2 separate regions of the Homo sapiens genome follow, and region 2 is linked to region 1. The links come from fine-mapping of genetic effects on gene expression. A gene starts in region 1. The other region holds a variant in brackets. All regions are shown on one strand. Distances are from middle to middle. Region 1 holds the start of MAP3K2 (mitogen-activated protein kinase kinase kinase 2). Region 2 overlaps UGGT1 (UDP-glucose glycoprotein glucosyltransferase 1).

Evidence for each region. PIP is the estimated chance that this variant, and not a neighbour inherited with it, causes the effect. A credible set is the group of variants that fine-mapping cannot tell apart.
Region 2: its variant is the best candidate, but not a certain one, in a credible set for the expression of MAP3K2 in left ventricle (GTEx, PIP 0.89).

The regions. Positions count from the first base shown.
Region 1 is chr2:127,385,377-127,390,758 of GRCh38, reverse strand. MAP3K2 (mitogen-activated protein kinase kinase kinase 2) reads left to right here and starts at 2,784. Exons shown (of 17, transcript NM_001371910.2): 1 at 2,784-3,307. MAP3K2-DT (MAP3K2 divergent transcript) reads right to left here and starts at 3,321. Exons shown (of 4, transcript NR_187129.1): 1 at 3,207-3,321; 2 at 1,761-1,878; 3 at 1,574-1,648. LOC124906074 (a long non-coding RNA gene) reads right to left here. Exons shown (of 4, transcript XR_007087227.1): 3 at 5,204-5,235; 4 at 4,598-4,679. RefSeq lists a silencer at 2,495-3,364.
Region 2 is chr2:128,164,685-128,170,066 of GRCh38, reverse strand. UGGT1 (UDP-glucose glycoprotein glucosyltransferase 1) reads right to left here. Exons shown (of 41, transcript NM_020120.4): 26 at 5,242-5,337. Among named protein-coding and RNA genes, the nearest start is that of UGGT1, 76 kb to the right of the region's middle. The variant C/A (reference allele first, on the strand shown) is at 2,094.

The DNA.
Region 1 (5,382 bases):
TGGATTATACTCCTATGATCAGGTTATGTTATGTGACACTGTTGATGTTAAGAATAGATTATCTCAGTGGGCCTGATCTAATCATATGAACTCTCTAAAAGCCGGGTGCAGTGGCTCATGCCTGTAATCCCAGCACTTTGGGAGGCTAAGGTGGGCAAATCACGAGGTCAGGGGTCCGAGACCAGCCTGACCAACATGGTGAAAACCTGTCTCTACTAAAAATACAAAACTTAGCTGGGCGTGGGGGTGGGTGCCTGTAATCCCAGCTACTCAGGAGGCTGAGGCAGGAGAATCACTTGAACCTGGGAGGCGGAGGTTGTAGTGAGCCGAGATTGCGCCATTGCACTCCATCCTGGGCGACAGAGTGAGACTCTGTCTCAAAAATAAAAAAATAAATAAAAATAAAAGCAGAGAGTTTTCTCTGGCTGGTAGCAAAAGAGGAAGTTAGAGAGAGATCTGATGTAGGAGGATGTTTGGCACGCAAGAAGGTCTCTGTCGCTGGCTTTCAAGATGGAAGGGGTCATGTGGCAAGGAATGCAGGTGACCTCTAGGAACTGAAGGCAGGCCCAGGAAATAGGGATGTCAATCCTACAACCACAGGAAACTGAATTGTGCCCCAAAGAAGAATGAGCTTGGAAGATCTTTGCAAGGGCCTCTAGATAAAAAGTCAGCCCAGCTGATACCTTGATTTCAGCCTTGCAATATACCCTGAGTAGAGAACTCAGCCTTGCCCCTGTGCAAACTTCTGATCTGTATAACTGGGAGCTAAAAAACAGACACTGTTTTAAGTCACTAAGTTTGTGGCAGTTTGTTATGCAGCAACAGAAAAGGAACATGCCACATTTCCTCTCTGAAGTCATCTCTCACTTCCCCAGACACACCTGTGACATCTTCCTCTTGCTGCTGTGGTGCCTGATACACATCCCTCCCATGATGCAGGTCACAGTGTGTTATCATTATCCATTTACCTGTCTGCCTTCCTCACAGGATTCTGAGTTCCTGGGCAGTGGGGACTATATAATTTTATCACTGCAATCCCAGGCACAGAGTAGGAAGGCAAAAAAATATTCATTGAATGATGGTTTCATCAATAAAAAAATCCCAATATCACTAATTTGTAATCATATATACTAAAATAACCAAAGATGTCAGAGATTTAATATCTAAGCAAGAGGAAAAGTCACCAATATAAAAGGAGAATGGCGAAAAAGAAAGAATAGCTACTATAACTATACCCACGGGATGTTTCTGAGGAACCCAGAGGTGAATGAAGTCCCCGGGGTGGTAAGTGAGGGAAGGGAGTGGAGAAATGAGCAGCACTATGAGGGGAAAAAATTTATCTCTAGATTACTTAGTAAACAAACACGTTTTTATTGAATGCCTGCTATGTGGTGACCCAGTAACTGTGGAGAACAATATAGATATTTAAGATTTAAATACTATCCTCCGGCGTTCTGAGACCCTCCTTTCTGTGGCATACAGGTCTTAGAATGTTAGATTCAAGAAGGTCTTAGATTTATGCATAAGTCCCCCATTTTTTAAACAAATAGAAGCAAACTGATTTTCCACTGACCTCTGTGTTTCTGAGGTGCACATCCTTGTTCCTGTGACTTTGACACCTCTGTTAATGGGTCTGTAATAAAAATTCCTGGAAGAAACCCAGAGATATTTTGACATTACACAACAGTTTCTCCCTCAGTCTCTGCCCCACAAGTGCCAGCTCCCTTGACCCTCAGAGCCCAAGTTGGGTAGCTCCTTACCTCTGGTTCGGGTGAGTCCCATTCCCATCTCTCTCATTTCAACTGCTCCAGTGGAAATGTGGTCTGGAATATGCATGAAAGGGGTGGATCCAGAATGTACGAAGAAACCAAGAAGAAGCTGAACAGGGAAGAATGGTACAGGAAGTTGTAAGGGGTATTTAAGGAAAGGAGAAGAGATGGGGCGGAAAGGTGCTTTCTGGATCAAAGTAGGGTGAAAACGTCGGGATGCAGGTTAGTCACACCACGGAGGGCCTCACCACTAGTCTGATTAATTTGCATTTTATCCTGTGGGAGATGAGGAGCGAAAGAAAGGGTTTTAGACTCTAGCTTTGGGGGTGGGGTGTCAACTCATGTCTCTGGGCTTAAGTTTCCACATCTGTTAAGCTGGAGAAGTAATACTTGCTGGGCTAACCAATGTACACAACCAGTCATAACCAAGTATCGATGGTGATAAGAACTAAACAGAAAACACAAATAACACTTAGCCAGTCTCCAAGGGGGTGGTTTAAGGTTAGGTGGCAAGCCTGAAGTAATTTCTAAAGTCCCTCAGGAAAAAAATTCTGAAACTTGAGCCACAAATTAAGAGGCAGACGGCTTTTCTCCTTGCAAATGACCTGCCACACAGTCCGTCACTGCCTCTGCTAGCTCTGCTACCCTTGGGCCCTGTCCACAGCCCACGTGGGAGACCTTTTCACGGGATCTACTCGGATGTCTGGGATCTGGCCACTACCGCAGGCTCGAGACAACCCAGGTGCGTATGCGCCGCGCACACGGAACAGCACAGGCTGCCCCGGGGCAGGGGCGGGGGCGGGGCCGAGGCCGGGGCGGAGCCAGGACTGGGAATCCCCGCGCCGTCCGGCCGGTGGGGGCGGTGGCCTGTGTGTGGGCGTGGCGGGCCTCTGCGCAGGCGCCGACCCACTCCCCTGGGCCGGGCGCGCGCCCGCGGCGGGTTCCGCTACCGCCGGGCGGAGGGGTGCGCGCGCACGAGCGAGCGGCCGTGACGTGCGCCGCGCTACGCCCGACGTCACGGGTCCGTGTGTAGTGGCTGCCGGGCTGCCTGCCCTCAGCGGCGGCGCCTGACGAGGGTGCCGCGGCCGCTGGGCGCAGCGTTCGGGGGTTGCACGGCCCGCGGCGGCGACGAAAACAACGACCAGGACGCTCGGCGCCCCTGTCCGCAGAGTCGCCACTCCCGCCTCTTCTCCGGTCTCTAGCGACGCGGGCCCGCGGCTTCCTCCTTTCCTGCCCAGTTCCCGCGGGCCTCGGGGTTGCAGCGGCTAGAAGTGCCGAGGAGCGCCAGGAGGACCCGGCCGGCTGCGAGGATTCACGCGCCCGCCACCCCGCCCGGCCCGGGCTTCATGTGAAAGAGGGACGGGCCTGGCCCCAAGGCCCGCGCCCGACTCCTCGCGCGCCCCTCCGGTCCCCGGGGGCCCTGCGGCAGCCCCCGACCTGGGGCCGCGGTGACAGGCCGCGCTGGGGCGGAGGGGCGGGCTCGGCGGGGGCGGCCCCTCCTTGGGCCTGCGGCTCTCTACGTCCCTGCGGAGCAGCCGGTACGTGCGTGTGTGCGTGCGCGCGCGCTTGTGTGTGTGTGTGTGTGTGTGTGCGCGCGTGTGTGTCGGGGGCCGCGGGCTGGGCGCCGGGAGGGGGGCTGGCGGCGGCCTAAGCGCCGCTCCAGGGGCGGAGATTTCGCTGGGTGATTGCCTAGCTGCGGGAGGGCGGACCTTGGGCCCCCTGCATCCAGTCCTAAAGCCCAGGTCAGCGCGAAGTAGGCTGCTGGGCTGTGTTAGCTGTCAGACACGTACCCTGCAGAGATTTTAGAAGAAAGGTTGCATCTGGTCTTGGGATGAAGCAGAAATGGTACATGCAGTAAGCGAAAAAGTGCTTGTCTTTGCACTGTCACAGTGTGGTAATCTTTTGATGTAAGGTTGTTTCCCCCTTTTCTCTTTACGGAATATTTAGGTAGCACTTAGGGTGCTCTTAGTCTGCGCCCGGCAGTTGTCATGCATTATCTCTCTTCATCTTCCCAGCTCAATGAGGTGGGTAAATTGCCCCATTTTGCAGGTGAAAACTTGAGGCTCAGAGAGATTAAGGCATTTGTCCAAGGTCATGAAGGTAGTAATCCAGGAAGGCTTGGTTCGAATATGCAGATGTCTTTTTGTAAGACTGTATTTCTCGTCTTGCAAAAAATAAATACGTTTAGAAAATGAGACTAACTGGGCAGTTTCTTTAATGGGATAAATTCTAAACACATAGACAGATACAGTTTAGTTTTCCCTAACGTAAGCTCTTCGATATCTTTTGCCAAATCATTTTCTTGGCTTTAAAAAAAATTTAAAAGATGGCTTCAGATACCTTTACTTTTTATGTACTAGTACTGGACAGAAAAAAATTATTCTCTCACAAAAAATAAATACATTTGGTAAAACTGCATAGATCTTGAAAAGTCACAAATTTACTTTTGTAGTTTGACCTTGATGCCCAAAGGGAACTCACAGTTGGGTTATTTGCTTGAGATTTCCTTGTTGCAAAATTTGTTGCTGGATTATGTGGCAATTTAGTGATTTGTTCGTTGTCTTATGCAATCTTTTTTAGTTCGATGTCAAATTTTAATGCGTAGAATATCGTAGGAAGTTTGATGGTGTGATTCTTTTTCATTTGTATGGAGTGCTACTAGTCAGTGTTTATAAGTTAACTGAAAATTCTCATTTTAGCATGAGTTTTGTATTTTTTAAAACTATGGTGAGAGGAAAAAATAAGGAGCCAGAGCTCTGTACTGAAAAAAAGTCGATACATTTCCTTTGAGTAATTGAAGCTCTATGCATAATTGCAAATGTTTAACAAATCTATTGATGCCCAGTTATATTACTCTGTAATTTTCCTAGTATATTATCAAGTTGAAGAAAATTTGTGGTCTTGCAGTCTCTGTGGAGAAAAGGTGAAATTACAAAGTTAACATGTGGATGGTTTACAGATTGATTTGTTGTTTGGTTAAAATATAAACATGTTGAATCTTATTGAATTATGTTGTATATGATATCATTATAGAATGGTTATCCATGTGCCTCTTTTGAGAAACTAGCTGTTAAAGGCTTATCTTAAATAATTGGATTGCATTAGAGACTGAGTCTTATAAGCAATGTTTTAGGGGGAGCTTTTGTTTCTAGTTTACTTTATTGGTACCAAAGGGTTAAACTAACAGGTGCTGTATTAAAATAAAGTCATGTTTGATACTCTGCATTTCCTACAGCGTTGGTTTCAGGTTGATTTTCTCTTTCCCTATAGAATTGGAGCTATTTCCCCCCACCTCCCACTTTTTATTATCAAACAATTTCAAGCATACAGAAAATTTGGTAATAGTAAACCACTTGTATCTTGACCCTCTAGATTAAACATTTGTTGTTATCTTGCCATATTTGCTTTATCTATAGGTACATGTACAGGCATACCTTAGAGAGATTGTGGCTTTGGTTCCAGACCACTGCAATAAAGGAAAAGAAGTGAGTCACATAAACTTTTTAGTTTCACGGTGCATATAGTTATGTTTACAATATACTGTAGTCTATTGTGTGCAATGGCATTATGTCTAAAAAAAGTATATACCTTAATTAAAAAATTATTTATTGCT
Region 2 (5,382 bases), 780 kb before region 1:
AAGCAGCTTGAAACTGTATTTAACCAAAAACTGAGAAAAGCTACTGAAGTTAGCTTCTGATAACATTATGCCAGTTTTTACTTCTTGGCAAGAAGAGTACAAAAAGAAAAGGAATAAATCAATTTTTAAAAAATAATGAAAGAACATTCCAGAAAACCTGCAAAACAAAGAAAAAGGAAAAATATAATCACAAAATATTCACTATCCCAGCCCACTTAGCTGCATCTCTACGTAATCCTTTCTAGATGCCTGTATAAACATTAGTTGTAGATACAGATTAGCAATTTCAAAACAATTTCCTTCCGTCTCTCACTACTGTAGCATAAAGATTTCCACATGCTGTTACACAACAAGCATCCTCTATAAGAAATAATATGCTATTCACCAAATGAAGCTGTCAGAGTTTACTCCAGCTTTTCTTTACTGCTGGACATAGAGATGGCTTTCAACCTGTAAACAATTTGTACAACCAACTTTCTCCACATTTGGAAATTTCTTTAGAGTCAAGGAAGTGCTAGACATGAGATTATGGAGACAAAGGATACAAATACTTTGCGGCTAATAAGTATTGTCAACCACATTTCCTGAAGAACTAAACAAATTTACAAGGCCAAAAAATAAATTTCACCACATCCTTCGTCAGCATTAAGTTATAGATAGATATTTTGCCTGTTCTTTTCCTTATTTACTTTTTTAGAGACAAGGTCTCACTCTGTGGCCCAGGCTGGAGTGCAGTGGCGTGATCATGGTTCACTGAAGCCTCTAACTTCTGGGTTGAAATGATCCTCTCAACTTAGCCTCCTAAGTAGCTAGGACTACAGACACATGCCACCATGCCGGGCTAATTTATATTTTTTTGTAGAGATACGGGTCTCACCATATTGACCAGACTAGTCTCAAACTCCTGGCCTCAAGTGATCCTCCTGCCTTGGCTTCTCAAAGCAATGGCATAAGCCACCACACCTGGTCCTTGTCTTTTTTTTTTTTTTTTTTTTTTTTTTTTTTTTTTTTTTTTTTTAAAGACAGAGTCTCGCTCATTCACCCAGGCTGGGAGTATAGTGGCGTGATCTCGGTTCACTGCAACCTCCACCTCCCCGGCTCAAGCAATCCTCGCGCCCCAGCCACCAAAGTAGCTGGGATTACAGGCACATGCCACCATGCCCAGCTAATTTGTGTATTGTTAGTAGAGACGGTGTTTTGCCATGTTGGCCAGGCTGGTCTTGAACTCCTGGCCTCAAGTGATCTGCCTGCCTTGGCCTCCCAAAGCACTGGGATTACAGGCATGAGCCATCATGCCCAGCCCCCTTGTCTGTTCTTAACTGAATGGTAACTTCCTGTTGCATGGACTCCCTGTGAAGTCACACAGACTGGTGACTTAAAAGGAGCAGGAACCTCTAATGAACTTTTAAAAGGACTCAACTTGAAAGGATTTAAAATTATACCCAATTTTTGAAAACCATTAACTGTTTAAACCATTATACTTTGTTTGCTCTGAACAATACTATAATGTGGTTACAATACTAACCACTACTTTTACTTTTTTTTTACCAAACAACATTTACCTAAGTGGGATGAATACAAAAGAATACCACAAAACAGCATAACGAAGAAAACTGGAAACAATTTACATGCTCATGGAGGTTACTTCACATCTTCACTGCTTTGGAAATAACCATGAGAATAGCTTTGTATCTGTGTTGAGGTAGGTGCTTTCGATCTCTGGCATTATTAACAATTTCAGATTAAGTCCACTGCCAATCATTATTCTTCTAACACAACAAAACTTCTGTTACTCTAATACAACTGTTCTCAAAGTGTGACTCCAGAGCAGTGGCATCAGCTTCCCCTGGGCATTTGTGAGAAGCAAGTCAGGATCCAACCCAGACTTACTGAATCAGAAACTCTGGGGACGGGTCCAGCAATCTGCATTTTAACAAACTCTAAGTAAAAGCCAAATTTTGAGAGCCACTGCCCTAATATAATTTGCACCTCTCTGCTATTCTAGAATTCTAGAAGGAAAAACTCATTAGAAAATAGCATTATACAAAGGCTCACAAGGGAACCAGAGAGAGAGTCTCAAAAAGGACTCTACA[C/A]AAGAGTGTAACATCTGGTCATGCCTGCCCACACCAGGTTTGGGGTAGAGATTCACACAACATGTTCACATTCTGAGCCAGCAGTGTTCTAGGTGATCAGCAACAGGCACACCACAAATTGACCTTGTGAGGTCCTTTACTTACCCCACATCTCTAGAACAAGAAAAAGGGACTCGAAAAAAAACAAGGAAAGAGGAGTATTTGTGTGGAAATGGGAACAATATGAACAACATCATGTTTAAATGTATTCACTATATTGTGCAGAGAAAAGACCAGAATAAAACTAAAAGTGACAGAGACAGGAACAAGATTTGGAGATTATACACATTTGCCTATGGTTCGTAGAGTAAATGTCAACGAATACTGTGCTTAGTAGCATGAATGCACACGGGAATCCCCCAGGAGCAACTTGTTAAAATGCAGGTGCTGATTCCTCAGGACTGGGGTGGGTCCAAAGCCTGCATTTCCAACAGGCTCCCAGACAATGTCTTGCTGCTGGTCCATGGACCACACTTTGAGGGCAAGAATATACATAACTGATGGTTCAGATCTTTCTATTTCTAGCATAAATGAGAAACTTCTGAGTTAAATGTAATAAACATTCATTTAACTGACACAACTCCCAATAAGAGGAACTTCTCTAATAGGAATTATAATTTGTCTCATAATAGAATTTATAATTAAGGTATTTTAATTATACAAAACATGGAGACCCATGGAGAAGAAGATTTCTGAAAAGGGAAGAGGTCTTTGCTCAGGACTCGCTACCTTGGGCAAGAAGGGTAAACAAGATGGCAGGTTGATTAGGAAAGGTTTCCTCCCGCTGGTGACTAATGAGTTACTTCCTGAAAGTTCACAAAATGTTGAGAAAATGGGTGCAATCTGGGTGCTAATGGCCAAATTCAACAAGGATTATCCAGGAGCCATAAGAATCTTCACCCACTGCTGACATAAAAAATTAGGACACACAACCAGTGCAAACAGAGAGGGCCTCCATTCCAGCCTACAATCATCAAATGATCTCACCACGCACACCTGATCCCCACAAGGATGGGTCATAAAAAACACAGGCCCACTAAACCAAAGTCCAATCCATGCCAGACTGATCAGCTCAGAAACACAGAGGAATAGGACACAGGCATCTATATTTAAAGCCTCCCTGGGGATTCCGAGGCACAATCAGTGTATATGTATATACTTGCCAGCTACAGCAAAGGCTATATACATTACTGCGCAGGGCTCTTTCCTAGAAACAATTAAATCTAATCATGAGGAAGCAACTCAGACTGTGAGACATTCCATAAGACAACTGTCCTGGACTCTTAAAAAATGTCATCATAAAAGACAAAAGACTAGGAAAAAAAATGGCAAAGAACTCTTCCAGATTAAAGGAGACCAAAGAGACACAACTCTGTAATATGTAATCTGGACCAAAACAAATACAAAAAACAGTTGTAGAAGGTCATTACAAAGATACTGGAGTCATGTGAACAGAAATTGTGTTTTAATATTACTGTATCAAGGTTACATTTCTGAGGTCAGCTAACAGTACTGCGGAGAAGTCCTAGCACTCAGGATACACATGCGGAAAACGTCAGACATGTTACATCAGGATGTCTGCAACGTATTTCCAAATGGTGCAGGAAAAAATATGACCGTGTGTATGCAAACATATAAATAAACTACTAAAGCAGTTACTAGAAGTACTACACAAACACACACATGCAGACACACGCACACAACATGCACGTGTGCAGATGACAGAGATAAAGCAAATGTGACACACCAACAACTGGTGAATCTAAGTGAAGGATATTTGGGTGCTCATTATATTAGTCTTTCAACTATTTCTAGGTTTTAAACTTTTCAAAACAAAAAAGTGAAGAACAAAAAGGCAAACTCCCTCACTATGCTAAGCTTATTTAAAACAAAAGTTTTCGGCCAAGCACCTTGGGAGGCTGAGGCAGATGAATAACTTGAGCCTAGGAGTTTGAGACCAGCCTGGGCAACACAGTGAGACCCCATCTCTATAAAAAATACAAAAACTAGCCAGGCATGGTGGCAAGCGCCTGTGGTCTCTTCCACACAGGAGGTTGAGGTAGGAAGATCACTTGAGCCCAGAAGGCGGAAGGTGCAGTGAGCTGAGATCACGCTACTGCATTCTAGCCCAGATGACAGAATGAAACCCTGTTTTTTTTTTTTAAAAAAAGTTTTCAATAAAAGATGAATGAGACAAGTACTTTAATAATCTGTTTATCTTACTATTATTATGATTTTGAGATGGAGTCTTGCTCTGTCTCCAAGGCTGGAGTGCAATGGCACGATCTCTGCTCACTGCAACCTCTACCTCCTGGGTTCAAGCGATTCTCCTGTCTCAGGCTCCTGAGTAGCTGGTATTACAGGCATCTGCCACCATGACTGGCTAATTTTTGTATTTTTGTAGAGATGGGGTTTCACCATGTTGGCCAGGCTGGTCTCAAACTCCTGACCTCAGGTGATCCGCTGGCCTCAGCCTCGCAAAGTGCTGGGATTACAGGCATGAGCCACCACGCCCAGCCAATCTCTGTTTAATTTTTTTGTGAGACAGGGTCTCAGTCTGTTGCTCAGGCTGGAAGTGCAGTGATGAGATCATGGCTCACTGCAGCCTCTACCTCCAGAGTAGCTGGGACAACATGCACATGCCACCACACCCAGCTAATGTTTTAAAATTTTTTTGTAGAGACAGGGTCTCCCTTTGTTTGCTGGTCTCGAGCTTCTGGGCTCAAGCGATCCTCCCACACTGGCCTCCCAAAGTGCTGGAATTACAAGCATGAGCTATCTTGACCTGCCTGTGTTTATTCTCGAATTTAAGAAAAGTACAACTTCTCTGTTTAATTAAATGCAGTCTATTTTCTACTACAAGGGTGCACTCAGAGTTATTTCAGATTCATTTAGAAATAAATGTCAGTTTTCATACAACTGAGATTTGCATATGAATTTTATATATGAACACAAATATATACATGTGAAAACTGCACACCAAACAAATGTTCAATTCCTGTAAGAACTTATATATAAATCTTATATGGAAAAATGAAGGAGCTGAGGTAAAGCAAACATAAGAGTTTAATATTCAAGAATATGCACAAATTCAACATTAATTCTATACCTGTGTCTGTCTTCAAAAAACTGGTACTCGATTCTTGGATCTCCTTTTGGTTGCGCTGACAGAAGAGCATCCACCTTCATTACCAAGTCGCTTGCCCTGAAAGAAGGGGTTAGAGAAATCTTAACATCTTTTTAACTGAAA